4 separate regions of the Homo sapiens genome follow, and all the other regions are linked to region 1. The links come from fine-mapping of genetic effects on gene expression. A gene starts in region 1. Each other region holds a variant in brackets. All regions are shown on one strand. Distances are from middle to middle. Region 1 holds the start of TRPA1 (transient receptor potential cation channel subfamily A member 1). Region 2 has its middle 14 kb from the start of MSC-AS1. Region 3 overlaps MSC-AS1 (MSC antisense RNA 1). Region 4 overlaps MSC-AS1 (MSC antisense RNA 1).

The links.
Region 2: its variant is fine-mapped to the expression of TRPA1 in monocytes after Pam3CSK4 (Quach 2016, PIP 0.95).
Region 3: its variant is fine-mapped to the expression of TRPA1 in prefrontal cortex (CommonMind, PIP 0.95).
Region 4: its variant is fine-mapped to the expression of TRPA1 in monocytes after Pam3CSK4 (Quach 2016, PIP 0.95).

Annotation. Positions count from the first base shown.
Region 1 is chr8:72,071,944-72,079,943 of GRCh38, reverse strand. TRPA1 (transient receptor potential cation channel subfamily A member 1) reads left to right here and starts at 4,360. Exons shown (of 27, transcript NM_007332.3): 1 at 4,360-4,645. The coding sequence starts at 4,535. RefSeq lists an enhancer at 3,984-4,555.
Region 2 is chr8:71,825,092-71,833,247 of GRCh38, reverse strand. No RefSeq gene overlaps it. Among named protein-coding and RNA genes, the nearest start is that of MSC-AS1, 14 kb to the left of the region's middle. RefSeq lists enhancers at 27-76, 1,752-1,931, 1,508-2,707, 5,882-5,941. The variant A/T (reference allele first, on the strand shown) is at 3,804.
Region 3 is chr8:71,853,254-71,861,387 of GRCh38, reverse strand. The region is part of intron 2 of MSC-AS1 (MSC antisense RNA 1); the gene reads right to left. Among named protein-coding and RNA genes, the nearest start is that of MSC, 13 kb to the right of the region's middle. The variant AT/T (reference allele first, on the strand shown) is at 4,096.
Region 4 is chr8:72,009,467-72,017,622 of GRCh38, reverse strand. All of the region lies in intron 4 of MSC-AS1 (MSC antisense RNA 1), which reads right to left. Among named protein-coding and RNA genes, the nearest start is that of TRPA1, 62 kb to the left of the region's middle. The variant C/T (reference allele first, on the strand shown) is at 3,401.

The DNA of each region.
Region 1 (8,000 bases):
TTAAGAAAATCATTTCATTTAAAATAGCTTAAAATTAATAAAATCCTTAGGAATACATTTAACCAAAAATATGCATGAACTGTACATAGAAAACTACAAAGCACTGCTGAGAGAATCAAGACAGATATATATAAACTGAAAATATACCATGTTTATGGATCAGAAGACTCAATATTTTAAACATGGCCCTTCCCACCAAATCAATCTATAGACTAAATGCAACAGGCATACCCAGAAACAATGCTTCATCAGCCATCAAGGCATCCTTCCATCTAGTCAAGTTGACACCTAATATTAACCATCATACTACCCATCTGACAAGAGATTAATAACCTGAATATATAAGTCAAGACCATGTGGTATTGGCTTAAATATAGAGATATTAATCAATGGAAGAAGATAGGGGTCTAGAAACAAACTCTTACATTTGTAGTCAATTGATTTTTGACAATGGTTTGAAGGCAGTTCTATGAGGGATGTATAGTTTTTTTAACAACTAGTAACAGTTGTATATCCATATGCAATAAAAATGAACTTAGACCTCTACCCCACAACCCGAACAAAAAATTAACTCAAAATTGATCTAGTTAAGAGCTGACACTTCTAGAAGAAAATACTGAAGAGAAGCTTTTTAATTTTGAATTGGCAAAAGTTTCTATGGCACCCAAAACACAATATAGGAAATTAACAAATTAGACTTTTATCAAAATTAAAAGTTTTGCTTTTCAAAAGGCACTATTAAGAAAATAAAGAGAAATAACAGCTTCTGAAAAAACTTTGCAAATTATTTATCTGTTTAAAGAGTTATATTTAGAATAAAGAACTCTTACAATTTAATAGTAAGAAGACAACGCAATTTAAAAAGAGGCAAAAGAATTTAATAAATATTTCATCAAGAAAATATATGAGTGAATAATAAGACATGCTAATATGGACAATATCATTAGCCATTAGGGAAATACTAATTAGAGACTCAATGGTATATACCATTAGAATGATCATAATAAAAAAAGATTGACAATACTAAGTTTTGTGAGGCTATGGAGTAAGTAGAATCCTCATACACTGCTGGAGGCCATATAAAATGGTACATCCACTTTGGAAGGTAATTAGGCATTTTCATACAAAGCTAAACACATACTTATCACATTACTCAGCAAATCCACTACTAGGTATCTCTCTAAACAAGAGAAATAAAAATGTATGTCCACAGATTTGTATGAAAATGTTCAGAGCAGCATTATTTATAATAGACCCAAACTGGAAATAATTCAAATGTCTACCAACTGATAAATAGGTAAAGAAAACATGGTATACCCATACAATGGAATACTATTGATCAATAAAAAGGAAGAAACTACTGATATATAGTACAATGTGGGTTAATCTCAAGTGTATTATACTAAGCAAAAGAAGCCAGATACTAAATATTACATAGTGTATGACTCCATGTATCTGAAATTTCTAGAGAAGGCTAAACTATAGAGATAGAAAGTGTGCTCCAAAGACAGATTGAAGGTTGCTTAGGGGTCTGGGTTGGGGAGGGATTTACTGCATCTGGGTCTAAGGAAACTTTTTGGATTGATGGAGATATTCTAAAACTGGATTGTGGAGATAGTTGTATACTTGTATAAATTTACTACAAGTCATCAAACTGTGCACTTTCCATGGGTGCATTTTATGTTTTGTTTCATAAAAGATGCTATTTTCCTTAGCATGTATATTGGGCCCCTTTTCATTAATAACATATCTGGATTAGTGACTTTAAAAATAAATATTTTTATAATTAATTTATAAACAAAACATTTTTAAATTTAAGGAACAAAATAATTAAGGAGAATTTTGGTAATTTAGATTTTTTTCATAAAATGTTATTGAGCAATATGTGCATATAACTATATTTTCCTTGATAATTTAAATAAAATTATTTATTATTATTACTTTTCATTTTCTTGAATAAGGTCCTGTGTAATGTCAAATTGTAATTTGATAATAAAAATTACCTTCAGAAAATTTCTAGGAAGGTTTCTTTTCTCTAATAAGTATCATTTTAAGAGTATAACTGATATAAAAAGCTTGCACATTACTGCTATTCATCAATAAACTTCAAATGAAATAAGATCTTGATTGTAAATAGCTAGATACCATCTTGTTCCTGTTTACATTTTGCATTTTAAGACCAAGATTTGCAATTAATCTTGCAATTAGAGGAAGTTGCCCTGCCTGCCTATGAAAAAGATATTTTTGATGGGTAGGAAATAATTTAATGATTAAGAAGAAACAGTCATGGGAATTCCTGAGAGGTCTTAGGAAGACACTGCCTGAAAAATGCCTAAAAGGAACAAGACCCCCATAATATTTTTTAAAAATTAAACTATCTTTTAATCTATTTGCTTTTATAAGCAGAAAGCAGGAAAAAAATCATATCTATAATATTAACCAACTGTATTTTTCAGTGTTAAAGACAGAGAAGACAAATTAAAAAGAATACATGCTTTGGAGAATGTCAGTGGGGTAGAGAAGCAAGAATGCAGACTCCAGGGGATATTACAAAGGAGGGGTGCTGTTGGCCTGGAGCCACCCTTCTCCCAGAATTCCCCTCAACCATCCATTGCTGGAGTTCCCTGCACTGGCCCACGCTGCCCCCCCCCCCACCCCTGTCACCCCCTGTCTCTCGGGGCCAACAGGGCCATCTGATGCTTGCTGCCATGACATGCCCACTGCCCCAGCTTCCAAAATGATCACTTCGAACATCCTCTTTATTCAGTTTTTGCCTTAGTGACCCTTTCCAGCTAAGTGTTGTGAGAAAAGCAATCGATCAAAATAATCAATGATAAAAAATAAAAAGTCTTAATATTCCTATGAGGCATTTCCATTTTAAAACATTAAACTGGTATATGGAAAATATCAGGTAGGCAGCAATGGCTCAATGAGAGTTATTCTTTTTACCCAACCCTGGGATTCTTTTCTTTATTGGTTTCTCCAAATGCATTACCTCCTTCAACTAAATCATAGCAAGTTGTGCAACTGATTCTTATCTTGCATACCCTGAACACAGATGCTGATGAGAAAAGAGTGCAAAGGTGAAGTTGAACACCTGTATCCTCCAGCAAGCCATACTCATGGACTCATGATGTGGTTAAGTTCAATATTATCCTTCCAAGGAATTCCACTCCAGGGGTGGAATTGATGGCAACCTGCCATATCCATTGGAAGATTTAGGGGGACCTTTCATGGTTCCTCAATATCATCATGTCCACTCTGCCTAGCCCTAAGCTCAGCCCACCACAGCCCCTAGGTCAGAGAGTCCACAAACCGTTGCTGAGTGCACCTATGCCAGTTCCTGGATCCACGGGGGTCTTGAGTTAAGTGCTGGAGATGAGCAGGTGAATACGACAATCCAGGGCCTTCAGGAAGCACCGTCTGTCAAAGCAAAAGACTGTCAAAGCTACATTCTGTCCTGTGCAAGGTATAATCAGCCTTAGAAAGGTTTCTTGCGTTCTAGCCTTGTAAACCTGAACTTACGGCAACAGTTCCCTTGTCTGTACCAGACAGTTCCCTTGTCTGTACGTAAAAGTAGAACCAGCCTCTTCGATTGAGACACTTCGATTGACACTTAATGAAGAGCAGTCCTATAAATATAAGTCTCTCAAATGAAGCTGGGGGCAAACAAACTTGCACCAGTCAGCAGTGGCTTACGTTTAACCTCACCTTTTTATTAACCACCCTTAAACACCAAAGTGTGAGGGGGATCACTGTTATTATCCACAGGAAATGAGACCTGATATTCACAGGGACTTAATCTAGTCCCTCAAACCAGTGCTAGGATGTAGCTATTGTCCCAAACGTTTGGAATGAGAAGTTTTGTTAAAAACGTTATTTCCAAATCAAAGAGGCCGCCAGAAGAAGGTGCACGTGGTGGGAAACACAGGTCTGTAGGATTTTAGTTAGAAAAAACTCCTGAAAACTAAAAATCTTTCCAATATACCCAGTCATTCCCTCTTCCTCTCTCTTTACACCCCCCACCCTCCACCCAACACACACACACACACACACACACACACACACACACACACACACACACTCACATGCAAGGTTGGGGGGCAGGGCAAGGGGCCTCTTAGTTTATTATAACAAATTCTCTGCAATCCACCCCGACCTGACACGCTTGACTCCGTCAGTGCGCTGCTGCAGCTGCAGGACAGCGGGACGGGCGAGTCACTTTGTCCCTGAAGGGGCGAGTCCAAGGCAGACGCGGCGCCGCCGCCCTCTTTGCGAAGGAGCTCCGCGTTTCTACCTCCTCTCCGCGCCCCGCCTGCTTCCTGCACTACAAAAGTAGCGCGGGCCTGAGAACTCCTTCCAGAAGTTCTCCAGGGCTTCCGCAGAGCGACTTTTTCGCTGCCTGTGAGCTGCAGCGCGGGAGAGCTCGGGCTCGCGCGGACCCCAGCGCCTGGCAGGCTGACAGCGCTCTCTCGCCCCAGGTGCCCGCGCGCGTGGTGAGCAGCTGCACCAGGTGGCGTCCGGGGTGGGGTCAATGAAGCGCAGCCTGAGGAAGATGTGGCGCCCTGGAGAAAAGAAGGAGCCCCAGGGCGTTGTCTATGAGGATGTGCCGGACGACACGGAGGATTTCAAGGAATCGCTTAAGGTACTCTGGGGGCTCGCGGGTCTGGAGGGGTTCCGACGTGCGGGCGGGGGTCGGCTGGAGGTTTCCTTGGGGGCAGCCCTTGGTTTGGAGAAAGCGTGGGGGTTGCAAGCTTTGGGGTGTGTGCACAATCCAAGAGGTGACCCTACTAATGACGCGCCCACACAGCGCCTGCTTTATCTATTTTGTTTGCTTGTTTGTCCAACCGAATTCTTGCTCCTGGACGGGCAACTGCAGTCCAGGGAAACCTACTCAAAAAGTATCTGTATCATCTGGCACAAGATCGGGCAGCTGCCTAAAATCAGGACAATTTGGAATGTGTGCCGTTTCACTTGGACCTTTCCGTAGATTTTGTTTAGAACCAAATAGCCGAATGACTGTATCTGGTAGTCGTTGGATAACTATTTAAGAGTTCTGGGGGTTGAGAAGCCTTCTGGTCTAACAGAGTGAAACAGATAAACCAATTGTCTGCACTTAGAGCGTTGCAGAAAATGTCCCCAATAAAACGGAGGCAGGAGTGGCAAATTCCTTCTCCAGGGGTAGGAGCTTCAGGAAACGCTGTGGGGGAGGTGACCTTTTGAAGATGGGTGAGTGACCTGAGGCTCTAGGATGGGCACTTCTATTACTTATGCAGTTATCGGACCTAAAGGCAGCACTAGCTACTACCTGATGGCTTAGTCTAAGGGATAGAGGCTGTTGGGTGCTCAGAGCCCACCACTGGATTTCATCAGATTGTCAGCAGGAGAAAGGGGCTCTTTTAAAATGTTGAGACATCATTAAAAAGGTCTCTCCAAACCCTCATCACAAATCTCTTTCGACAGAGGGACCATGTTAACAGTTTCTTAAGAATTTTCCAGGTTAAAAAAAATGCTTACACAAAAACACACATGCTAATAGATCTTGTTTTATTTGCAAAGTTAAGAACTCACAGATTTCCACTCTGATTTACTCACAAAATGTATTTTTGAATACATTTCAAATTGGCACTTGTAGATTTACCTCACTCTTTTTACCAGCTTCATAATATTCCACTGTATGACTAGATCATGATTTATTTAACCAGTGTTGCACTGATGGACACTTAAGCTGTTTTGTGTTTGTTTTGTTTTGCTGTTACACATGTGACAGAGTATGTCTGTGAGTTTAGATGTAGCTTCTCTGTCTGTCTGTCCCTTGGTACCTTTATGGATATGTCTGTATGTCAAAGTCCTAGCAGGGTCAAGAGGTATGTACAGCTTTAATTTTGGTAGAAATTGACAAATTGCTCTCTAAGCAGGTTGCAGGAATTGGCACTATTGCCAATTGTGTGTGTGAGTCAGGCATGTATAGTTAATCACACACACCAAGTAGCCAGGCCTCCCAAGGTGAGTCTGTTGACATGTCCGGTTTGGCCACAGACATTTTTTGTCCTTCTTAATGTTAGCATGATAACTGTGGTCTTTTGGCTTACTCCAGAGAACTGAGTCATAAATAGATTTCAACCACTGGAATAGTATCTTTACAATTAATATGGTACAGGAAGAAATTTTAAATTTCTAAAATCACCCATGTGGTTTTATTTTCTAGCGATATTTGCCGAAGGATTTCTTAGCAGCGAGTCTCAAAATTATTTGTCTTCGTGTTTCTAATAGTCTTTATTTAGATTTATCATCTACGTAGAGCAACTTATGTTTTTTAAGCCTTTTAGAAGCTACATAGAGTTTGTAGATTGAAGGATTATATCTTTTATTTCATTAACTGTAGTAGTTCCATATCATTTTGTAAAAATCTCTTGTTGAACCCATGACAAAGAAACATATATAACACTATGAAGGGTTTTTTAACCTCTAGAGGGTTTTTGGTTGTTTCCTAATTTAAAAGAAAAGCTGTATAACATATTTTCTCCAGCACATACACAGTATCTCAGGAACACTAACAAAACTGAAGGATCACAGAAAACTTACAAGATGAGAAATGTGGAAAAAGAACCATTGGACTGATGCTTTTAGCCTTTTCCAATTATTTTCTTTCAAGATAGTGAATAGTTTAGCATTTGACTTTCTATTTTTTATCTCTCACCTTAGTTTCCAACCTTTTGGCCACATTGCTACTTATATGTATTTCATTAAAGCAACCTAAAACAGATGTATTTGATATATCTGTTTTAAAGGGTTTAGTTAGAATTAGCTTATCTAAAAGTGATCTAGTCTATTATGTTCTGAATCTAATCACATAGTTCAGATTCCAAAAGAATCTGAAGTGACCCTGTGACAACATGAAACTACATTAAATGAATATATATTTTGTCTAAATGACATCCTTGGCTTACTTTCAGAACTTTAAAAAATCTTTTCAAAGCCTGACAACGTCAGGTACTGATTGAGATGATCTAGTACGTCTGATATGCTCATGTAAAGTATTTAGATGCTGTTTTGTTATTGTGAATTCAATAGTGCCTTGTGAGCATCTGAACCTAGTACTCCCTCTAAAGAGTGTGGAACTGGGTTTGTGTTGACAGCACATCGCTGAACAGACATCCCAAACTGCTCTTTCCGGCACTAGGGAGTGGGCAGCATAATCCCTTTATTACGCAAAGAGCATATCAAATTCAAGTACCAAAATGCTTCCAAATAGATTTAGGCCAACACTTTCTTTGATAGGATGAGACATGGAAAAAGATCCTATTTCTGCAAGAAGCCCATTTTAAATTTATTACTGAATATGTGTAAATTTGGAAGTGGTTGGATGCTCATTGTCATATCCTGTAGTCACTAAAGTTATATGTAGCTTATATGGAATTTAATTTTTTTTAGTTAAAAAGTAACACATCTCAAGAGACTACCATAGAAGAGTGACTTGTTAGGTACTATTCTGTAATAACAAAAGCAAAAACTAAAGTTCAAAAGTTTAAGAAATTAAGTTTTATTATTCCAACCTGACATTTGCTGAATAAATCCTAATATTCTAAATCCTTTCTTAGTTATATTAAGGATACATTAAATACCTTAATACTTCATTTTCACTGATAGCTTTTCTTTTCAGTAGTGAGAAATGCTCTAGTTTTCTTCAAAATGACAAACTGGAGTTTGGACATATATTATCATGTGGCATATGAGACTAGTTATGGTCAATGGTAGAATTGAAGCAAGTATCTGAATCATTTGGGGAAGATTTCTGCATTTCCTTTACAATGAGGAAGAACGGCCTTTATTTCTAAGCATATATGAATGAGTTCATGATAAAAAAATTTATTTCATGTGTTGATCAATCTTGGGGCATTTTCTCAAACCTTCTTTGTGTCCGTAAACATTTTGTGTATTTCAAGAAAAATATTTACCTCATATAAGCATGATAGATAGTTTTGGATAATAATAAGTTC
Region 2 (8,156 bases), 250 kb after region 1:
CTGCTTTTCAGGTCTCCTGGGGTGGATCCCAGAAGCTCTGCTCAGTCACTTCAGGGAATTATCCCCTGGTTGCTAGACTAACAACAGCCTGTGACAAAGGGAGGGAAATTTAAGACCCTATGACCAGAACTGTTTACTAGCAGGTCCAGGATTAGAATTCACAGACTCTGAGTTTCCCCTTGGCATCCAGCCCACCCAATCTGAAGGACACCAGCAGATAAGAATTTGGCACCATGACAGCTATTTCTCTGCAGCTGTTTTCCATGCACACTGGCCAAGTGCCCCGGAGCCCGCGTGGGGTTGCAAGTGGGGCGTTCTCAGAGCCTGACTTGTTGGGTGGCCTTGGGCAGTCTCTCCCTCTTCCAACTATGATTTCTCACCTAAAATGAGGGGTCTGGGCTGGATGGGGCCTTAACTGCACCATAGTTTTAAATGAATGCCCTGCTTACTGTGGGTCTTCAGAATAGCACTGATTATGTCTCCCTTTATTGCTAGTACATCACAATACGGGGAGGCTGAAAGCTTGAGAAAATGAACAAAGTCAACCTACACTTAAATGTTTTATGAGTTTGGTGCAAAAGTTACTGAGGTTTTTGCCATTACTTTCAATGGCAAAAACCTCAATTACTTTTGCACCAACCTAACAGATGAAACTCAAGCCATTCAGGTGTCTTTTGACTTGTTCTGCAGAAGATCTGTAATATCTCTACGTGATTTCACTGTTGATGATAAACTTTGCCACAGACTCTTCATTTCTGTGATAAGTATTTAATCTTACAAAGGTAGAAAACAACTTCTCCACATTATATGGAAACCAAATAAGCACAGAAATGATGGTACTTAAAACTGTTCTAGTCTCAAAACAAACTTTCATTAGTGTTTAAAAACCTGGCCAGGCACGGTGGCTCAAGCCTGTAATCCCAGCACTTTGGGAGGCCGAGGTGGGTGGATCATGAGGTCAGGAGATCGAAACCATCCTGGCTAACACGGTGAAACTCCGTCTCTACTAAAAATACACAAAAATTAGCCAGGCATGGTGGCGGGCACCTGTAGTCCCAGCTACTCGGGAGACTGAGGCAGGAGAACGGCGTGAACCCAGGAGGCGGAGCTTGCAGTGAGACGAGATCGTGCCACTGCACTCCAGCCTGGGCGACAGAAAGAGACTGTCTGAAAAAAAAACCCAAACACAAGATCTGTTCAGACCTTTTAAAAAGATTCTATGATTGAGTTTGGTTTGCTCCAGAGTAAAAATTATAGTGGAAAAACATCAGATCCAAATAAAAGAATCTTCAGGAAAAAGTATAATATATAAACAACTACTGGTTTTCTTCAAACTCCTGACAACCTAGGAGATGCTGAAATTTGACCTATCGTTTCAAGAATCTAGTGAGTTTTCCCTTTTTAGGTTAGGACATCTCCCTGTGACAATTTTCACCTTTCTCCAAGACTTCTCAAAATATACTGTTGTTGTTTCTATACTCGGACCTTTAAACCTGTCCCATATCCCGATATGTGATTCACCTGAGCACAGACTCATAGAAAGCTACTTTGTCTGGCAATGTGCAGAATAGATTGAACAGAGCACAAGTTGGACAGTCCAGGCAAAAGAAACTGAGGCCTAGGCTGAGACGATGGTGGTGGGAATACCAGGGATAGAGCCAAGAGACTTTTGACTGCTAGAATCAAATTAACTGGGTTATAGACTGGATGTGTGTGATGAAAGCCAGGGTAAAAGCCACAATGACTACAAGGTTTCTAATTCGGGCCAGACAGTGAATAGCAAAGTCATCATGAGTCATGATTTATCACTAAAATTTAAAAGGGCAAGTTTGAAACAGTACAGAATTGAGAAACTTTGCCATTCATTTGGGAACTCTACCATCCATTGGCCCATACAGATTCTTATCAAATTTGGTCTTACTCTGGGGACTTAGATTCTTTCAGAGGGGGTAAAATCATAACTGAAAGCTTAAAGAGAGAAGGGGTTTGTGCAGCTCAGAGACACAAAGCTTGGAAACAGGGCCCTTGCCTTGATCGCATGTGAGCATGCCTTTTTTCTTTCATTGGATTCTAAATATCTTCAGAGCAGGAATCATCATTTTTCATTTTGTGTCTTATGAAATTACAACCTCCATCTGTCTGGTACAAAGCAGATGATCAATAAATATTTAATAAATTTCTCTTGATAGAAAATAGTTATTGCTACTCTTTAGTTTAAATTCCTTCTCACTTGTAAAACGAGGGTGATTTGATTTGGGAAAGTCCATACCCTGGAACCACCCGAGATATGTAGTCATCACAGACAACTAAGAAAGTATGTCTAATTAGTCACTACCATTTGACACTACTATTTCTGCTGTACATAATCTGATGGTGCTAGGGAGCCCTCAGACAGAAAAAGAAGAGTATTGACTGAGTTCAGTAAAGTACTTTAAAATGTAAAGCTTTAAAATTGGAAGAGGCAAATTCATACTGTAAACACGCTAAGCACCATGCTATACGCTTTACAGATATCAGCCCTTTAATGCCTCTGATCAGGCCCATGAATAGGCCTGTGATAGTCTTGATTTATGGGTGGGAAAACAGGCTCTCAAAGCTTCAATAACCTTCCAAGGGCCACACAGGGAATAACTGGTGGAATCAGAGTTTAAATCTATTTCTCTCTAGCTAAGAATCTGAACCCAAAACCATTCCCTGAGCCTCCCCAAAAGTTGTCTGCTGGGGTGAAAGGAAGCTGGTGGGAAGATGGTGCCCACCGATGAGACTAACTGAACTTTAGGAGTTAACTCGGAACAACGGATGAGCCATAGAGCTATACCTCCTTCCGAGGGCTTGACACGGGACGAAAGCGCAGAAAGGAGTCAAGGCTGTCTGCTTCCTTGGCGGTGCCCACCAATGCAACCCAGGGAGTGGCACTTGTCTATAAACATATTTGTTTCTTTTTGGGTTTGCTTTCCTCTTTATTTTATAATGAAGATGATTTGAAAAACACCCAATTTATATGTGCTGAACTAAAAAGAAAATAGATCTATTCTCACTTAGGATTTTTAGCTCACAAAATTACATACTCCTGGAGAGCCCAGCAGTGGAGGCAGGGAGTGGCCAATCTGAAGATGAACAAAGAACTGCTCCTGGGAGAAACTGAGGTAGGGGAGCCAAGAAATGCCATGACCGAGGAGAAGCCCCAGTCTGCCTAGAAGAGCTGATCATTTTTGTTTGACCTTAATAGATACTTGCTTAAGTGAGTTATAGGAACAAACAATTTCCCACCAACAACAAGTGATCCACTTTTTTCCATCTTCACCAAAGACAGAAAAAGAGAAAACATGTGTGAATTGAAACATATAAGAAGTACAGTAGATTTAATGAAATTGCCAGAGAGAGGTTTTCTAACCGTCTAGGATTTGTGATGTAGAATTTGCGCAGTTAGGGAAGAATCTGTGGTACAGATTTCGTAGAATCATAAAGCCACAAAACTTTAGAGCTAGAAGGTATCTCATAAGTAATCTACTTTGGTTTATCATGGCATTCTAAAGATAATAAAAAACAAAGACTATATGGTTACTGTAATTACCTAACCGGGACTGTTGTGCAACAATGTAAAATTATGGCCCCAAATTATGCAATACCTAGGAAAATTTTATGAAATAAACAGGATAAGAAACTATAATTATAGCAATGACAATAAAAATCAAAATAATCTAATCATTTTAAAGATAAGGAAAATGAAACTGGATTTTTGGAAACTGGCTTCTCATCTGTCTTGGATTAGAGAAAGATGCTGCTTGAAAGTTTGGCTTTTT[A/T]AAAAAAAATCCCCTTGTCATTTAAGGTCATTTCTGGTCTGTCTTTTACTGGCTGACTTCTCTTTGTCTTCCTCCCCTAAACCCTTCCCACTCCCTCTGCCTTAACCTGCAGAATTAATTCTACCTCATCTATATTTGTGCAATACTTTACACACATCTTCATTTTTAAAGAAAAGTTATTAAAAGTACTATATGCCCCAAAATGCAAGAATGGTGTGGCATAAGAAAATCAGTCAATGTAATACACATTATAGAATGAAGGGGAAAACTCACACAATCATCTTCATCGACATAGAAAAGCATTTAACAAAATCCCACACTCTTTCACGATAAAAAACAAAACAAAACAAAACAGAAAACCAGGAGAAGGCAACTTCCCCAGCACCATAAGACGCCTTTATGCTAACATCAAACCCAATATGAAAGACTGAAAGCTTTCCCCCATAAGGTCAGGAACAAGACAAGGATGCCTGTTTTCACCATGACTATTCAACACTGCACTGGAAGTTCTCACCATAAAAAGGAAGGAAACACTGACACGTGCTACAACATGGATGAACCTTGAAAATATTATGCTAAGTGAAAGCAGGTAGACACACAAGGTCACACATTGTATGATTCCATTTATATAAAATATTCAGAATAGATCAATCCTTTGGGACAAAAACAGATTAGTTGTTGCCAGTTCAAGGAGGGAACATAGAAACTGTTTAATAGCTAAGGGGTTTTAGTTTGGAATGGTGACAATATTTTGAAACTTATAGAAATGGTGATTTCGTGACATTGGGAATATGCTAAATGCCAGTAAATTGTCTACTTTAAAATGGCAATTTTTTTTTAGCATTCCACAGTGTGATCCTTTACTACAGCAAGGTGGCTGATTATCAAAAACTGAGAAAAGCAAGAGTGAATACGTTAAAAAGGTTTGTTGCAGATACAAGAAGGTAAGCGGAGGCAAAGATAACTCAGTGCTAGAGGTCTGGATGTGGCTCCTCAAGGAGCTCCCTGCAGCCCGGCTCCTCCAGGATGGCGCTCTGCACACAACCCGGGCAGCATCTGCTTCCCCGGGAAAAGTTACCCATTGACATCAGCTGTGTTTAAGAGCTAATTTTTATGTTAGGTGAATTTCATGATGTAACCAAGTTCAAAAAAATGAGTCCTTTGAAACCCAAATTCAAGGGCGGTAAATATATGTCAATGGGTATTTCCCCACTATATTAAGTACTTACACGCTCATTGTTTCTGCTGTTTGGGGACCTCTCTGCAGCTCCAGCACTTTCCACAGGATTCAATAGGAAAAATAATTGAGCGCCACGCAGCCGGTCCCAGTAATAAAAAGACGTCATTAGCGCGCCATCTCGTGGTAAATATATAAGTTGCAGCAAACCCTCAGGCTGCAGATTTTTTTTTTTTTTTTTTTTTTTTTTTTTTTTTTTTTTTTGTTAAGACAGGGTTAAGCCTATGTTGCCCAGGCTGGAGTACAGTGGCACTATTATGGCTCACTGCATCCTTGACTTCCTGGGCTCCAGCGATCCTCCCACCTCAGCCTCCTGAGTAGCTGGGACAACAGGCATGAGCCACCACGCTAGTTGTTTATTTTTATTTTTTGTAGAGACAAGCTTCTCACTATATTGCTCAGGCTGGTCTCAAACTCCTGGACTCAAGTGATTTGCCTTCCTCGGCCTCCCAAAGTGCTGGGATTGCAGGCGTGAGGCACGGCACCCGACTAGGGAGCAGAGATGAACCCTGAGGTTACTTTCTGTCCTTTCCTCAAGCCAGAGTGGTTTAGGTCACTGGTCATGAATACAAGGATCGGGGTTGTACGCCTTCTCAAAGACCTCATGTTCCTTAACATCAAAATGCTCTGACTTATTCCAGATTCCTTAGGAAACAGCCTGAAGGAAAGCCATGAGTGCAGACTCCCTATGGAACCTGGTCACAGCTTCAGGACATCCTTGGGGAGGTGTCAGCAATCCCCCTGTACCAATGGTGATGGTGTGTAGGGGGGGTCCAGGGAACCTTTTCCCCTACAACCTTCAAGAAAGCAGCTGGTGGCAGGAGTCTTTCTAGAGCAAATACTGTGCAAGAGGGAATCCAAGAGGGCCGATAAGCTGGATTTCTGCACATGTGTCACTGTGTCAGGGGCATCCCCTGCACGGCCACCACTTCTGCCTGTGGGCCATCTGTGGCTTCTCAGGTCCCTTGTAGTAACTGCAACAGCGCTACTGTCATCACAGCTCTTCCAGAAGACAGCTCTGGGTGGTTCCCCACTACTGTATTTGTGAGATCCAAAGGTGTAGCTCTCTGTTGCCTTGTGGATCCGTTATATTTGCAGGCAGTGTTATAGTTCTGAGGGGATTTTGGAAGTGGTGGTTACTTCAACGAAGAGCTTGAGATGAGCATCTCATCTGAGCTTCACAAGTCCTCTGCGAGATAAATAAGGAAGATTATTATAATTCTCTCCATTTCATGCAAGTGTTAAACCCAGGCCTTGTCTTTGTTTAAGGATAGATATAGGCCAGGCACAGTGGCTCACGCTTGTAATCCCAGCACTTTGGGAGGCCGAGGCAGGTGGATCACGAGGTCAGGAGTTCGAGGCCAGCCTGGCCAATATGGTGAAACCACATTTCTACTAAAAATACAAAAATGAGTGGAGCCTGGTGGTGGGTGCCTGAATCCCAGCCACTCGAGAGGCTGAGGCAGGAGAATCGTTTGAACCTGGGTGGAGGGGCTTGCAGTGAGCCAAGATCGCCCCATTGTTCTCCAGCCTGGACGATAGGGTGAGACTCGGTCTCAAAAAAAAAAAAAAAAAAAAAAGCTATAAAGTAGCAGATTCACTTGCTGTGTCTTTCCAGAAATACAAGAACCATTCTACTTCTTCCCATGGAAAGCCTGCATTTCACACGTGTAATGATTCAAATCTGTGTTTTAAGATGAGAATAGGCAAAACAGTATCGTGCTCTGCTCACCTTCTCCACCTTCACTCTTCACTCAAGCCAAATTATGCTATTATTGATGGAAACACAAACAAAGACAATATATTTTTTAAATTATACTTTAAGTTTTAGGGTACATGTGCACAACGTGCAGGTTTGTTACATATGTATACATGTGCCATGTTGGTGTGCTGCACCCATTAACTCGTCATTTAACATTAGGTATATCTCCTAATGCTATCCCTCCCCCCTCCTCCCACCCCACAACAGGCCTCAGTGTGTGACGCTCCCCTACCTGTGTCCATGTGTTCTCATTGTTCAGTTCCCATCTATGAGTGAGAACATGTGGTGTTTGGTTTTTTCTCCTTGAGACAGTTTGCTGAGAATGATGGTTTGCAGCTTCATCCATGTCCCTACAAAGGACATGAACTCATCCTTTTTTATGGCTGCATAGTATTCCATGGTGTATATGTGCCACATTTTCTTAATCCAGTATAACATTGTTGGACATTGGGTTGGTTCCAAGTCTTTGCTATTGTGAATAGTGCCACAATAAACATACGTGTGCATGTGTCTTTATAGCAGCATGATTTATAATCCTTTGGGTATACGCCCAATAATGGATGGCTGGGTCAAATGGTATTTCTACTTCTAGATCCCTGAGGAATCGCCACACTGATTTCCACAATGGTTGAACTAGTTTACAGTCTCACCAACAGTGTAAAAGTGTTCCTATTTCTCCACATCCTCTCCAGCACCTGTTGTTTCCTGACTTTTTAATGATCGCCATTCTAACTGGTGTGAGATGGTATCTCATTGTGGTTTTGATGTGCATTTCTCTGATGGCCAGTGATGATGAGCATTTTTTCATGTGTCTTTTGGCTGCATAAATGTCTTCTTTTGAGAAGTGTCTGTTCATATCCTTCACCCACTTTTTGATGGGGTTGTTTGTTTTTTTCTTGTAAATGTGTTTGAGTTCATTGTGGATTCTGGATAATAGACCTTTGTCAGATGAGTAGATTGCAAAAATTTTCTCCCGTTCTGTAGGTTGCCTGTTCACTCTGATGGTAGTTTCTTTTGCTGTGCAGAAGCTCTTTAGTTTAATTAGATCCCATTTGTGAATTTTGGCTTTTGTTGCCATTGCTTTTGGCATTTTAGTCATGAAGTCCTCGCCCATGCCTATGTCCTGAATGGTATTGCCTAGGTTTGTTTCTAGGGTTTTTATGGTTTTAGGTCTAACATTTAAGTCTTTAATCCATCTTGAATTAATTTTTGTATAAGGTGTAAGGAAGGGATCCAGTTTCAGCTTTCTACATATGGCTAGCCAGTTTTCCCAGCACCATTTATTAAATAGGGAATCCTTTCCCCATTGCTTGTTTTTGTCAGGGTTGTCAAAGATCAGATGGTTGTAGATATG
Region 3 (8,134 bases), 220 kb after region 1:
AAACCAGTTCCTGTGGTCAGAGAAATGAAGTGTTCTGAATGGCCAGGTCTTAGTCAGCAGACTTCCCAACAGCCTTGGGAGAGGGCCAGCCCCACTTTTGCCACGTGGAATGAGAGTGGCTGCTCCCAGATGGAAGCCTAGTACTGTTCCCATCGTAATAAGTGGAGGGTAAATGCTACAAAGAAGAAAACAAGCCTTCAAAGGGGAGGAAGAAAGAAATACATATTCCTTATTTATACAACATAAACCATGCTTATGACCTGATATTATCTTGATTATCTAAATCAGTGGTGTAATTTAATATTTATAGGAAATTACATTAAACAAATTTATAATCTTCCTCTCCTCTACATCCATTCTGCTCTCCCCTCCCCTGTTTAAGAGCAAACTCCCTTGGGTCCCCAGAGGACCCAGTGTTCTTATGCTGCTTTCTGGCAGCCCAGGGCCCCCACCAAAGTCCTACCCACCTGGTGTGGGTTCTATTTTCTGAACCAATTCCTCTTTCTGAGAATTAGTCAATTTCTGAGCTAGTGACCAACCTGCCCTTGGCCCCTTCTTACTATAAAATGAGGGGAATATTTAAGTGACCTTTAAGGCACCTTCTATAACCAATTTCTTTGGACTTTTCACTGAGACAAACCCTATAAAGCAAACCCTATTTGCATACTTATTTGCATACCTCATTCCAATGGTTGTGTGGGAGGAGGACTCTTGCTCTTCTTCACACATTCATACATAGAGGGGGAAGCTCCCAATCTCTTCCAGAAAGCAATGAAGTCATCACTCCAGTCTCTTTCTTCTGCTTGTTCCTCCTCACAAGAAAGGGAGGTGCTAATCTGTTTGGTAAGAGCTTCACTTCCACTAGAGCCTATTTCCCTACTTGATGGGATTACAGGGTACTGCTCACTGGTAGCACAAAATATAATTCTTTTTGATGGTCTTGTGCTCATGCAGTAAGATCCCTCTCCTTCCCTGGTGCACACCTTTGCATTTCATGTCTCTGAGTACTAACCCACCTTGGGAGGGCTTGCTCAGCTCAGTGGGGAGGTATGCTGTTCTCTCTGCATTCCAGTTCCTCCTGCCTTTCAGAAGCAGTCCTTGAACTTGCCATAGGTGGACTGGAAGGCTGCACAGAACCCTTGACTTACTTTGAAAATACAGAGGTTTTTCTCTGGACTAGGGGGAAGGGGACCTACTTTTGGACTTAGATCTAAGTCACATTCTCTAATCTACTTTTCTCGGATCCCTGAATTCTATTGACTACTTCTTTGCCTAAAAAGATGATAATTTGAGCCCCCATTTGACTAGTACTTCTCTCTGTAGGTTAGAACCTAGCAAGGAGGAGAGGTAAGTTTTCACTCTTATCTACCTCTAATAGTCATTTCCAAATTACTTTCACATGCATTCTTATCACTTCATTCTCAAAACCACCTTGTGATAACTTCCAGGGCAGGAAATACTAATTCAATTAAATTCAAGGAAATAGAGATACAGAGGTCAAGAGACTTGTCCATGATCTAGTTAGTTGCAGAACAGGACTAGATCAGCATACACTGAGAATAGAATCTCAAAATGAGAGACACACTAACATTCTACAGCTTCAAAATATAACCAGAGAAATAATTCCTCCAGCACTTATTTGCACTCCTCTGGCAAGAAATTGTTGTGAAAACTTAAGACTTCTAATCTTTATGTAGTATACAGAGTATAGACAAAAAAGAAAACCGCAGTTAACAAAGTATCGTAATGTCAGATGCATGATTTAATTTCTAACCTGCTGTGACACTGTAAACTTAATGATCACAAAAATTACACATTATCTTTGTGTAGCTCTGAGTAAATATTGTGGTGGTATATGCTCTGGTGAATATGTATAACTGTGTTGCTTCTGTTGTTTTTATGGACCTCATTGTACAGGATATTGGATATCACTAGAGATAATGTAAGCCTTAAAGCCTGTCAAATTGAGATAGTCTGTGCACCTGCATCCAGTCGTCCACCCCTGCAGCAGTTCTGGGCAGCTGTCAGTGTTCCCACCCTCCCCCACATAACTGGGAGTATCAAGCTGCATATAGAATATTTTGGCTTATATACAAAGATGAAATAAGTAAATAGGCAAACCTTGGATATCAATCTTGGCAATCCAATACTAAACCAGGATATTCTGAACTCTACAAAGTAAATTGATAAAATAATTTTGAAAATTATATCTTGCACATATTTGATATAGAGGTAAACTCTTTCAAAAGGAAAATTTCCCCACAATCTTAATATCTCAAAGTAGTGTTGGAACATGTCTCTGTATGGTGAGCAAGGCCAATGAAGAAGAGAAAGAAATAACAGATGGCCATTCTCTAGTTGCCCTATCTAAGACTAGGAAGTGGTGTGAGCTAAAAAAAAACTATCTTCACCTAACATTTCTTATTTTTAGGTAGTTTTTTCATTTCACTGTGTGTGAAAGAGAGAAAAAGAGAGTGAGAGTTTGAAAGAAGGGGAGAGAGAAACAATATTGATTTTTGTATGACATCTGGATCACTTTGTCCTGTGTTTATGAATGAAGTAAGGGACAGTAAAAATAAAGCTAATTCTATAGTCGGTTCACAAGCAGGATATAGGAGGAATGGGAGAGTTCTGAAATTCTGGGAGAATGGCAGCAGAAATTTAATCATATGCCTAGTCCATACTAGGTACTCACTATGTCCTTGCTTAAAGAGTTAAATTAACTGGGTTCATCACAGAATTCATTGACAGAATATATGCTAATTGACTACTTCTACTTGGTCGTAGTGGGAGGCTTGTGTTTTTTATGTGAAAGTACTAAAAGGATAAGAATAAAGAAACTAAATACATTCTATTTATTTTTATTGATCTAAAAACTGTTTTACAAAAGGATTAGAAGATATCAACCTGTCATCATCCTAGATACAAACAGTTAAACCCACCCCTCCCTCTAATTAGCTTTTCCTTTTGCATACAGAAGGAAAGCCTTTCAGACACAGCTGTTCTTAGGCCAGATTCTCTCAAGGGAATGACTCAGCCTCTGTCATGGAAAGACTAGTCAGAAACAAGCTATTGAGGAAGATGGAGAGACAAGAATATAAATGCACAGGAGTGTGGTTTACATAGGAGAATGTGGTAGACAAGCAATGTGAAGCTAATCTTGCTGAATCCCAGTGGTTCCTCTGCTCTGCCTCATTCTTGTGCCAGTGAAAATTGGAAACTTCAGAAAAGACTAAATATGGAGCTTCTTAACATATGTGAAACTTCTTAACATTCTCCTTCCTACACGTAGAGAACTGGTACTTAATTTACTGCTCTTTTAATTGGACCTCATGATATATAAAATATACATCAAGATTCAGTGGAAGACAAGGTGATGTCCGCAAAAATGACAGACTTGCGAAAATAATCTTCCCCATGAAAGCAATGAGAAAACTCACAAAATTATCAGAATCAACATTTTCAGAATGCTAGAAATTAGCCAAAGTTCTGCAGCAATCTGGGTATTTTTTTTTTGAAGAAAAACAGCTGAATATCAGTAAGAACAGTAAGCTTTGCTGTGTTTTAACTTGTCCTACTCCCATTCCCTTCTTCTCTTCCAGCTCCATAGTAGCCTTGAAAACTGACAGCTTACAATCACAGTGGAAGCCATAAATTAAGCAGACCTTTCAGGCATTGGAGGAACACTCTACCCCACAGCAGTAGGATATACATTTTTCTCAAGTATACACAGAACATTCCCTAGGATAGGCCCTATTCTAGGCCATAAAACAAATCTCAGTAAATTTAAAAGGACTGAAATAATACAAAATACTTATCCAGTAAGAGAAATACATTTGGGGAATTCACAAATTTATGGAAATTAAACAACACAATCATTTAAAAACCCATGGGTCAGTAAAGAAATCACAAAGAAAATTAGAAAATACCTTTATGGAAGAAAATGAAAACATGGCAAACAAAAAACCTAAGTAATACAAGTAATACATTTCTTATGGGGAAATCGCAATACCAACAATGAGATAGAAAACCTAAAAAGAAAACAAAGAGAAATTCTGGAGCTAAAAGGTATAATAACTAAAGTAAAAAAAAAAA[AT/T]TCACTAGAGGGATTCAAAGGCAGATTTGAGCAGGCAGAAAAAAAAATCAGTGAAGATAGGACAATGGAAATCAACTTCATCTGAGGAACAAAAGAAAAAAAGTTTAAACAGGGCACAGTGGCTCATGTCTGTAATCCCAGCACTTCAAAACAGGAAGAGCCCTTGAGATCAGGAGTTTGAGATCAGCCTGAGCAGCTTAGTGAGACCCTACCTCTATAGATAATTTTAAAAATTAGCTGAACATGGTGGCACATGCCTGTAGTCCTAGCTACTAGGGAGGCTGAAGTGGGAGAACTGCTTGATCCCAGGAGTTTGAGGCTGTTGTAAGGTATAATCATGCCACAGCACTCCAGCCTAGGAGGCGGAGTGAAACTGTCTCTTAAAAAGAAAAAGAAAAAAGAATGCTTAAAGAAAAGTGAGCAGAGCCTAAGGGATCTGGGGGACAACATCAAACAGAATACATGTATTCTGGGATTTCTATAAGGAGAATGGAGAATGGGAAAGAGAGAATATTTATAGAAATAATGGCTGAAAAGTTCCCATATGGGATGAAATAAATGAATACAAACATCTAAAAAACTCAACAAACTCCAAGTAAGATGAACTAAAAGAGATCCACACCAAGACACATAATAATACAACTTTTGAGAGAAAGACGAGAGAATCCTGAAAGCAGCAAGACAGAAGGATCTCATCATTTACAAAGGATCCTCAATAAAACCACCTGCATATTTCCCATCAGAAACTTTAAAGGCCAGAAGGCAGTGGGGCAATATATTCAAAGTGCTGAGAGAAAAAAATTTTCAACCAATAATCCTATTTCAGCACACTATCCTTCAAAATTAAGTAAGAAATTAAGACATCCTTATATTAACAAAAACTGAGGGAGTATTTTAGTGCATTTTCTGCTGCTCATTACAGAATACCTGAAACTGGGTAATTTGTGAAGAAAAGGAATTTATTTCTTATAGTTATGAAGGCTGAGATGTCCAGAGTCAAGGGGCCACATCTGGTGAGAGCCTTCTTGCTAATGGGAACTCTGAAGAATCTTGAGGCCTGGAATCACATAGTGATGGGGCTGAACCTTGCTCAGGTCTCTCTTCCTCTTCTTACAAAGCCACCAGTTCCATGCCCATTAACCCATTATCCCATTCATCTATTAATCCATGAATAGATTAATCCATTCATGAAAGCTGTGCTTTCAAGATCCAATTACCTCTTAAAGGCCCTTTCAATACTGCCACATTGTGGATTAAGTTTGTGACATATACAATTTGGAGGAAACATTCAACAAATAATAAATGACATTTATAACTCAACAACAACAGGACAAAAAATTTAATTTAAAAATGAAAAATATCTAAATAGACTTTTCTGCAAAGAAGATAGATAAATATACAACAAGTACATTGAAAGATGCTGAACTTCATTAGCTGTTAGGGAAATGCAAATCAAAACCACTATAAGATATAACTTTCACACCCAGTACGATGATTATAATCAAAACAAAGAACAATAACAAGTATTGGTAAGGATGTGGAGAGACTACATTGCTGCTGAGAATGTAAAATGGTATAGCCACTTTGGAAAATAGTCTGATAGATTATCAAATAGTTAACCATAGAGTTACTATACGACCCAGCATTTCCACTATTAGGTATATACCCAAGACAGTTGAAAACATATGTTCACAATAAACTTGTACATGAATATTCATAGCAGCATTATTCATAATAGCCAAAGATTGGACATATCCCAGGTGCCCATAAATTGATAAATAAATAATTACAATTTGGTGTGTGTATATATATATATCATTATATGTATGTTATATATAATTATATATAATGAAATATTAATTCAGTCACATAAAATTGAAATACAAAAGCAAGCTAAAATATGAATGAACCTTAAAAAACATTATGCTTAGTAAAAGAAACAAGGCATTAAAAGTCTGTGGCTTATTATATAGAAAGTTTTTCAATGGAATATTATTATATATGTAGTATGTCCAGAACAGATGAATCTACAAAGACAGATAAACTAGTGGTTGCCAGGGGATCTGGAAGAGGGAGAAACGGGAAATGACTGCTAATGGTTATGGGGTTTTGTTTGGGGATGATACAAATGTTTAGGAATTACAGAGTGGTGATGGTTGCACAACCTTTTTGAATATACTTAGAAATCACTTAACTGCACATCTTTAAAGTATGAACTTTGTGGTATGAGAATTATATTTCAATTAAAAGAAAGGTTCAATGATTATCAAAGCAAAAATACTATAATTAAAATTAGTATTTTTCAACCAAGTAGTATAAACATTAGAATTAAATATAAAAAGTTAATGTGTTTTGTGTCACAAGTAAGTATAAAAGTTACTTGTAACATTTTCCTCCCTGGTCAAGCTTATTTTTCTATGACTTCTAAAACGAATGCTAAATATCAAGAACTAGAAGATTTACTATCACTTTAAATACTCTGGAGTTAAGCACAGAGTGCCTGGCATTGTAGCTTAGCCTGCTTATTAAATTCTCTAGTATTTCACATGCATTGTCCAAGAACATTGTATTAGTAAGGATACTCTAGAGAAACACAATGAATAAGGGGTGTGTGTGTGTGTGTGTGTGTGTCAGAGAGGAGAGGACAGAGAGAGACTTATTTTAAGGAATTGGCTCACACGATTGTGGAAGATGGCAAGTCTAAACTCTGGAGGGTAGCCTGGCAGGATGGAGACCAGAGAAGAGCTGCGTTCTAGTCTGAAAGCAGTCTGCTGGCAAAATGCCCTCTTCTTCCTAGAAGGTGAGTCATTTTCTATTACGGCCTTCATCTGATTGGATGAGACCCACTCATATTACGGCAGGCAATCTTCTTTACTCCAAGTCTAGTGATTTAAATTTATATCTCATACAAAAAAAAAAAAAAACTCCACAGAAAAATCTAGAATACTGTTTGTGCAACTATCTGGGTACAATGGCCTAGCCAAGGTGAGACATAAAATTAACCATAATGGACATGATATAGCAACAAGAGCACTAGACTCTCATTCTAGACATCTGAGTTCCTCTTCAATTATCTTTGTATTCTTCAGCAAGGAACTTCATCTCTCTTAACTCCAATATCTTTATCTGTAAAATATGGGGGATATTAATGTTTAAAATGAGAATATAAGGGTATGGGGGTGCAATCTGACATACTCTGCTTTTTCTCCCTGTTAAACTACATGTTAATGAGTTCCCTATAGCAAAAATGAAGAAATCATAAGTTTATTATTGATTTAAAATACCCTAAATTTGCTGTGTTCCAAATGCCTATGGAATATGTTGAAAGAAATCTGCTAATATCTCCAGAGAGCCTAAGTTTTGAAAAATAGTTTGCATGTATGTCTGTGTGTATGCATGCATTCATGTATTTTGTCGTTAAGTCCATTTTACATAGATAACGCACAACTGAAAGATCTGAGAAATATATAGATCACTCCATATTATATTCTGTCAGTGGCACCCCCAACATTTCTGCAATATAGTGATACTGCAACTTTGCAAATCCTTCCCTCTCCACCTACCCCAAAGAGTTAAAAGTATGGCTTCATTTTGCCTCCCTCCTGCATACCATGGGTCCCCAACTGTAGAATCTTCATCTAAATCTCCAAGAGTATTTCCCCTGAACTCCAAGTTCCTAAATTGCATCTCTACCTCATCAAAACTTAATGGTCCCATAAATAGTTCATTCTTGCAAGTTCTTGCTATTGAAAATATAAACAGGTTAATTTGTTAAGATTCAGCTATTTCTAGCTGAAAACCACTCCATGTGAATCACTGTGCTAGATAACTTCACATTTGTTAATGGGTATAAGTGCTCATCAGTCAATGTCATCAAAGCCCTTAACACTGTTTTGAAATACATTTCCTTACCCCTACTTAGACTCTTTTTATATTCTCCAGAATGGTTATTCCCCACATTTCCCATTTCTGTTGATTCTAGTAACTCATGTCTACCCACCTATTCTATGTAGACAACTTTAATTCATATTCCACTGA
Region 4 (8,156 bases), 62 kb after region 1:
TTTTTCTGTCTACAAGTCAACTCAGTAATGGCAAACCCCCTGTAAATCAGTGGAGATCCATATGCCTTGCAGATGCAGATCATTAATTCTGAAGGAACCAAAACTGTCTAAGGCCAGGGGAAGTGGCTCATGTCTATGATCCCAACACTTTGGGAGACCACGGTGGGAGGATTGCTTGAGTCCTGGGGTTCGAGACCAGTCTGGGCAATACAGTGAGACCCCATATCTACAAAAATTTTAAAAATAGCCTGTCATGGTGGCAGGCACCTGTAGTCCCAGCTACTCAACAGGCTGAAATAGGAGGATCACTTGAACTCAGCGGGGTCAAGGCTTCAGTGAGCCGTTATTGCACCACTGCACTCCAGCCTGGACAACAGAGCAAGTCCCTGTCTCAAAAATAAAAAAGAAAAAGAAAAAAAACTGTCTAAAGAATTCATAATCGAAATAATCCAGAAGTTGAGGTTCAAGACTGCAGGTATCTGTACTTTCAGGATACCACAGGCAGACACAACATCTTTCATAATCCGATAAACCTCCAAGCATCAAGTTTTCTGTGATGTTGTATGGTGTCCACAGTCCTTGAGATACAGGTTAGGTAGTGCAAATAACTAAAACCAGTAAGCCAGACTGCAGTCTTCAGCAAGGGACTTAAAGTCTCTTCTACTGCAGCAGTCTCTTCTACCCCAGCAGTTGATCAGCAAGCATCTTCATGACCCAGATGGTTGCCTTTCAAATTCTGAGTGTGGTAAAAGAAACCAGAAAACTCTTGGAGAGCTGTAATACTGAATTGTAAACATGTGTGCATTTATCACCATCCTGTATCACTTTGAAAACTTTCCCAATTATAAATATGCTAAAATCACCCAAATTTAAATAAGATGGAGGATTTATTAAATCAAATAGTCTTTTTACTTGTCGCAGGGCAAATGCTGAAAGTGGGACTCACCCCAGGAGGCCACGTGGGTTTTTGGCTTTCTGCAGGAAAAAATTCAAGAGCAAGCCAATAGAGTAAAGTGAAAGCAAGTTTATTAAAAAGTAAAGGAATAAAAGAGTGGTTACTCTATAGGCAGTGCAGCCCTAAGGGCTGCTGATTGGCTATTTTTATGGTTATTTCTTGATCATATGATAAATAAGGGGTGGATTATTCATGAGTTTCCTGAGAAAGGAGCAGGGGATTCCCAGAACTGAGGGCTCCTCCCACTGAAAGACCATATAGGTTAACTTCCAGATGTTACCATGGCATTTGTAAACTGTTGTGACACCAGTGGGCTCTTCCTTTAGTATGCTAATGTATTATAATTAGCATATAATGAGCAGTGAGGATGACCAGAAGTCACTTTTGTTGCCATCTTGGTTTTGGCAGATTTTGGCTGGCTTCTTTATTGCATCCTGTTTTACCAGCAAGGTCTTTGTGATTCGTATCTTGTGAAACAAGTCCTGCTGAACTCCTGTCTCATTCCCAAGTATAAAACCAAGTTGTGCCCCTAAAACCTCTATAGCATCCCAGTCTAGTGGTCAGCTCTGCCATTCCTTCTCAGTTGATAAGATAATGAAATGGCCCTTCACTCATCCAAATTACTGTAAACTTAACACCCAGTGTGCAGGATCTGACTGTACCTTTTAACATCCTTTGTTTCTATGCTGCCACATGAGTCCTTGAAATGCAGAAGACACAAGCCCATAAAGGACACTGTCAGTAAATAACCAGCCAGAGGATCAGAGATTTTGAAAGTTTCCATCAATTAGTCAATGACAACGCACAGAGCTTTGTCAAACCTTTGAAATATGGAACATGTTAATTTCACAATATGAAGTAAATTGCTTATGGGACATGCTTTTTTTTGCATGCTTTTAAAGTGGTTTCTATATTTTTTAACTGTAAAGAAAAGTCAACAAGAGATAAAGCTAAGTTCTACTAAAACATTTTGAGCTATGTTTTATATTGCCATTTTAAGTCTTAGCACTTAGAATGAGAATCATCAAAATGTGGTGACTCTTTGTTAACAAAGATAATACCACGAGGGCTTCACTGATGTTCTTTGGGAGTGGAGATTCATCAAGTGGAGTATCTCGAAAAAGCTGGATTGCTGCTTTGAGTTTTCCCCAAGAAAATTCAATTATCATATGCCAGTTTGAAAACAGAATAAAGCCCCAAAGTGCCAAGTGGCTTAAAGTAGTCATTGCATTCTATTTTTTGTTAAGTTTTTCTTTAATTGGAAAAGTATTAGGGTCAATAGAGCCAAAAGGTGGGGTCGGCCTTTCAAGTTTGGCACAGTTTTGCTGCTTGGGTACAGTGTTTTTTAAAATTCAGGTTCTTAACTTCTTGGAAAAGATGAATGGGAAAGAAATCAGAATGGGGGTATTTTGATTAAATTATTTAGAATGGCAATTACAAAAATAAGTACGTGTTTTAAATGTTTTCATTTATTGTTATGATTTGCATTTAAATAATTATTTTTGGAAATAATTTTCAAGAAAAAATATATGTATATATACATAAAGTATCAGAAAATAGTAATTAGCTGCAAAATTTAAGCTTACAGGGATGAGTAAATATATTTTTACAGTCTGAAAAGCAACTATTTACAAGTGAATAGTTTATAGCAACTATTTACAAGTGAGTGTACTGAGAGTTATTACTAAAGATAACTTGAAATGTAAAATCTGGCTTTAAAAGTATATTTTAAATGACAGTATAATGTTACACAAATCAGATGGGTAAATAGCAAACTAGGATTATACACTTGAGATATGCTAATATACAGAGTTTCATCTGTTATTAACATTTTTATTAAGACAAGAAGTATTAGATACCTTCTAAACAACGAATGTATCACTGATTTAAAAAAATAACCACTTAGTCACTGAGCAGCTATCATAACCTTCAAAGGAGAAGATTTAAGGCAACACAAACAAAAATATGCTAGCTTAACCTTGCATGTAAATCTTCTGAGAGTCTGCTCTAGACAGAGGTTTCAATTCTGCACCGCCTAATGCGTGTGACCCACAGAATTCCCAGCTGGATTTAGCTTGTCTGCACTGCACTTTTAAAACAAGCTAGAAAAAGGCAAACTCCCTGTTCTTCTGGTGCCATATGTGTATATTTTGGCTATTTCAGGGTATAGGGTAATGGAAAAAAAGCACCCTTTGTTTCATTTTTCATCATAATGAGGCTCCCCATTTGACATGTATGACAATTCTACCAGATAAGACAAGACCAATACAACACAGGGCAGAAACATGAAGAAAAGAATATTTTCTAAGGTCTTCTTGGGCACTACATAGTTGTTTTATGATATTTTAAAATTTATTTTTAACTGATCATGCCCAAAGCCAAACTTTGTTACAAGAGACATCTATAAATATTTACTAATCAACGAATGTTACAACAGACAAGGAA[C/T]GCAATAGCATGAATGTATTACAACACAGGGTACATGGGCAGATGTTTATGGGAAAATGACTAACCCGTTCATAAATTATCACTGTTTACATTTCAAAGCCCAAGCCAGCTGCTTTGTAATGACAGATTATATCTTCAGTATTGATCACTGACAGCTATAAAAAGTCAGGCTGTTTGGCTTTCACAGGTACGAGTGGTGAACAGAAGATGAAATACCTTATCTCATTCATTTTTCTTAGCAAGGACTCAATTCTATTCAAATTAAAGATACTGCTTCATAACATACTTGTAACTAAAAAATATAGGGTGGATAATTTCTTTTTTTAATTGTTCAGAAATCAAGAATATAATTTAAACAAAATAAGTATGTATTAGTACATGGGAAAAAAGATAAAAAGAAACAAAACAGGCAATATAAGAAAAGCTTAAAAAATTAAGTAAAAGAAAACATCAAGACCTACAAAAATGCAAAAACATGAACAAGACTACACAAGTAAAATAAAATCTATGAGTTCTGACAACCAATCTAAACTTCAGTAAAAAACACAATACTTCCTTTCTGGGTTAAAAAAATGTAATCGCTAGAGAATAATCTAAACTAGTATTATAGAAAGATGAACAAATAAATATACAAATATAAAGAGCAGGAGTGACAAAATGAACTTAACCCAAAGAATGCAAGGGAAAAAATATAAAATTAGGCAAAATTATTGCTTTACACGGACAAAGATTTGACCTACAAGGAAGTCATGAGTTATTAACCTTTTTGCTTTCAATAAGTTACCAAAATATGTCGAGTTATAATTAGTAGAAGTGAATCATTGATGAATATATTGTTGGAGAGTCTTATAACACCTCCATTAGCCTAATCCCAGCTCCACACTTAGGAACTGTGTGACCCGCAAAGGTTATTAGAACACTGTTGCCAAGGAACTAGGAGAGAAGAGTCTGCTAGGACAAGGCACCAGCAGAGAACAGCCACTGCTGGAGAAACACAGGTACCCAAGCTAAGTTTCCAGGTCAAAGCAGGGACCAGATGAAGTCAGGAAGATCAGTCTGTAAAAGATACGAGCATTTCTGAAGCCTTTAAATAGCTGAATACATTGTATAGCGTTACTTCCTCACCTGACCCAGGTTAACCTCTTTTTATGTCAGTCCCCATTTTTCCCTTCCAATTTCTAACATTCATATTCCATTTTGAATAATTAAAAAGTTTTTTAAAAAATTAGTAACTCATGGAACTTGAGTTTGTGGATAGAGAAGGAAAACAATAACTAAGTCTGAACCAATAGTGGGCCTTGCCCTCTTCTCCTTGAACCTAGGTTTTAATGACAAAAATGAAGCTATTTTGGTCCACAAAGCAATCAAGGGTCCCTTTAGCCATCTCTGTGTCCCTTCACTAATTAATTCACCACCTAGACTTCAGCTGAAAAGACCTGCCCTACTCCAGCTATTTAGTTTAGCTCTATGTTCCTTCATTACTTGCTCATCATATGGGGGTTTGTCCCTTATTTCCTCACCCCTCTGAACAACATGCTTCTTTAACAGCTGGTCCTGAGGGTCAATAGGGTGTTTTAGTGTTCTCATTTGGTCTTTCAATAAGATGCCATTTCTTCTTGACTCTTGTATGTTCTAGTGCCTTGCTATTCAAGGTGTGGCCTGTGGGCCAGCAGCATGGGCACCCTCTGAGAGCCTGTTAGACATACAAGATCTCTGGCCAGTCATGGTGGTTCACGCCTGTAATCCCAGAGCTTTGGGAGGCCGAAGCAGGTGGATTGCCTTGAGTTGAGGAGTTCAAGATCAGACTGGGCAACAAAGCAAGACCCCGTCTCCACAAAAAAATTAAAAAATTAGCTAGGTGTGGTGGCATGCACCTGTAGTCCCAGCTACCTGGGAGGTTGAGGTGGGATGATCATCTGATCCACGGAGTTTGAGGATCCAGTGAGCTGTGATCATGCCACTGAACCTCAGCCTGGATGACAGAGTGAGACCTTGTTTCAAATAAAAGAAGAAAAAAGAAGATGAAATGTAGGATCTCAGGTCCCTGCCCTAGGCACTCTTCCCTCCTAAATCAGAATTTGCATTTTAGTAAGTTCCCTTGGCAATTCATATGCAAGTTAAGGTCTGAAAAGTACTACCTAATGAAGTTTCACACTAACACTGCTGGATGCTTCATTTAAAATCAATCAAGTGGCCGGCGCAGTGGCTCACGCCTGTAATCCCAGCACTTTGGGAGGCTGAGGCGGGCGGATCACAAGATCAGGAGATCGAGACCATCCTGGCTAACACGGTGAAACCTCATCTCTACTAAAAATACAAAAAATTAGCCGGGCGTGGTAGCAGGCAACTGTAGTCCCAGCTACTCAGGAGGCCGAGGCAGGAGAATGGCGTCAACCCGGGAGGCGGAGCTTGCAGTGAGCTGAGATCAGACCACTGCACTCCAGCCTGGGCAACAGAGCAAGATTCTGTCTAAAAAAAAAAAAAAAAAATCAATCAAGCAAACTATAGTCAAAAATAGAAAATGCTGCATACTTTAACTATCTCCACTACCTCCTGTGTTCACAATGCACATTGGCTTAATAAGGCTCTGAGAAAACTTGTAGTAAGTAAACCAATTTTTTTTTTTTTTACTTCACTATTTTCCAAACTTATATATCCACGGGTCCCCTGGCACATAATAACTATTAACATCCTTCAGGATTTATGATCTATGGAACACATTTTGAGAAACACTGGTGTAATGGACATATTTGATGAAAGGAAGCAAATGACTAATTAGACACTTCTTTGCATTGCAGTTTCTTCATCGATGCAATAGAGGTAAAATAGGACCTATCCATCTCAAAGCGTAGCTTTGAGAAGAAAAGGAAGTGGATGTCAAAACCTTTTGAAAATGCAAGTGTTTGGGATACTTTCATTCATTTATTTTTTCACTTAACAAATACTTATGAGTGCTTACTCTGTCCCAGGCCTGTGCCATGTGTGGGGGCTACAGCAGTGAGAAAAGCTCCTGCTTTCACGGAGCCAAAAATCAATCCGAGTGAATTAAGGATTCAGATTTATAGACCACAAATGTAGGCAGTGATTCCCAAGAGGTAAAACATTGCTAAGAGTCCCATCAGTGTTATTTTAATTCAAAATGATTTATTTAACTAGAAGAAGGCCTTCTCAAAACCATAAGGGAGCAGGAGTACCTACTGAGTAATAATAATGTTAAGATTTATACAGAACTTACGGATGTCATCTAACCAACGGTGTGCTGGCAAGCTAGCCCCTGTTGTATAGTATTTGCAAATATCTGTAGTGTAAATATTCTCACCATGGCCAATTAATTTCAAACTACCAATATGATGTCACTGGATGTGAGGATGGGAAGATTGGCAGAATCAGAAAAAAGGTGTACTATTGGTCATTGTGAGCCAGTACAAACCAACTGCAGTACATCATGGCATGGACCATTCTAAACATTTCACATAAAATAAATCATAACTACCCTATAAGAGAGTAACTAGCATCTTCCCTATTTTATAGATGAGGAAATTGAAGCTCAAAAAGATTACATAACTCTTCCAAACCAAGCAACTAGGAAAGGAGGTGATATGGTTTGGCTGTGTCCCCACCCACATCTCATCTTGAATCCCCACATGTTGTGGGTGGAAGGGACCCAGTGGGAGATAGTTGAATCATGGGGGCAGTTTTCCACATACTGTTCTCATGGTAGTGAATAAGTCTCACAAGATCTGATGGTTTCATAAGGGGAAATCCATTTTGCTTGGCTCTCATACTTTCTGTCTGCTGCCATCCACGTAAGATGTGACTTGCTCCTTCTTGCCTTCCACCATGATTGTGAGGCTTCCCCAGTGAAGTGGAACTGTAAGTCCAATTAAAACCCTTTATTTTGTAAATTACCCAGTCTTGGGTATGGCTTCATCAACAGCATGAAAACAGACTAATACAGGAGGCTAGCATTTGAACTTAGAGACATATGACTCTAGAGACCTATCCTCAAACACTATGGCCCAGTACTTACTAAGCTTGCCACTGGCAAGCTGTGAGGTAATCCCAAAGGTTAGTGTCAGCCAAATCCACCTCATTCACTTATTCATTCAATAAGCAACCAAGAATACTCAAGGATAGTGAATATGCTTTGGATGAGATGCTTACAATTGCTTCACTGGGGTGAAAATATTCTATTTGGACAGTAAAATAAACTCAGTATTTGGATTTGGCTCACACACTTCTCTGTGACAGAGCTTCATTTTCATAGGACAGCCACAACAAAATTCCCTTATTTTGGCATTCCAGAGAAACTGACATTTGGCCACACTGCTAAAATTGATAGACTGAGAAATTATGACAGAAGTTCAGATGGGTACATGGATATGTGTATGTAGTTTCTGCTGTCTGAATGGTGTGAAAATTGCCCTAGATTAAGCTAAGGTTATTCTAGTCAGCCTTTAATTGGCTAAGATTGTATATTGGTTTGCTAAGGCTAGAAAATAAATAACAGACATTTATTGTCTCAGAGTTCTAGAGGCTTGCCAAGATGTCAGCAGGCTTGATTCCTTCTCAGAGCTGTGAGAGAGAATCTGCTCCAAACCTCGTTCCTAGCTTCTTGTGATTTGCTGGCGATCTTTGCCGTTTCTTTGTTTATAGAGGAATCACCTGGATCCATGCCTTCATCTACACAGCATTCTGTGTGTGTGTGTTTGTGTGTGTGTGTGTGTGTCCCTGTGCGTGTGTCTGCCTTTGTACC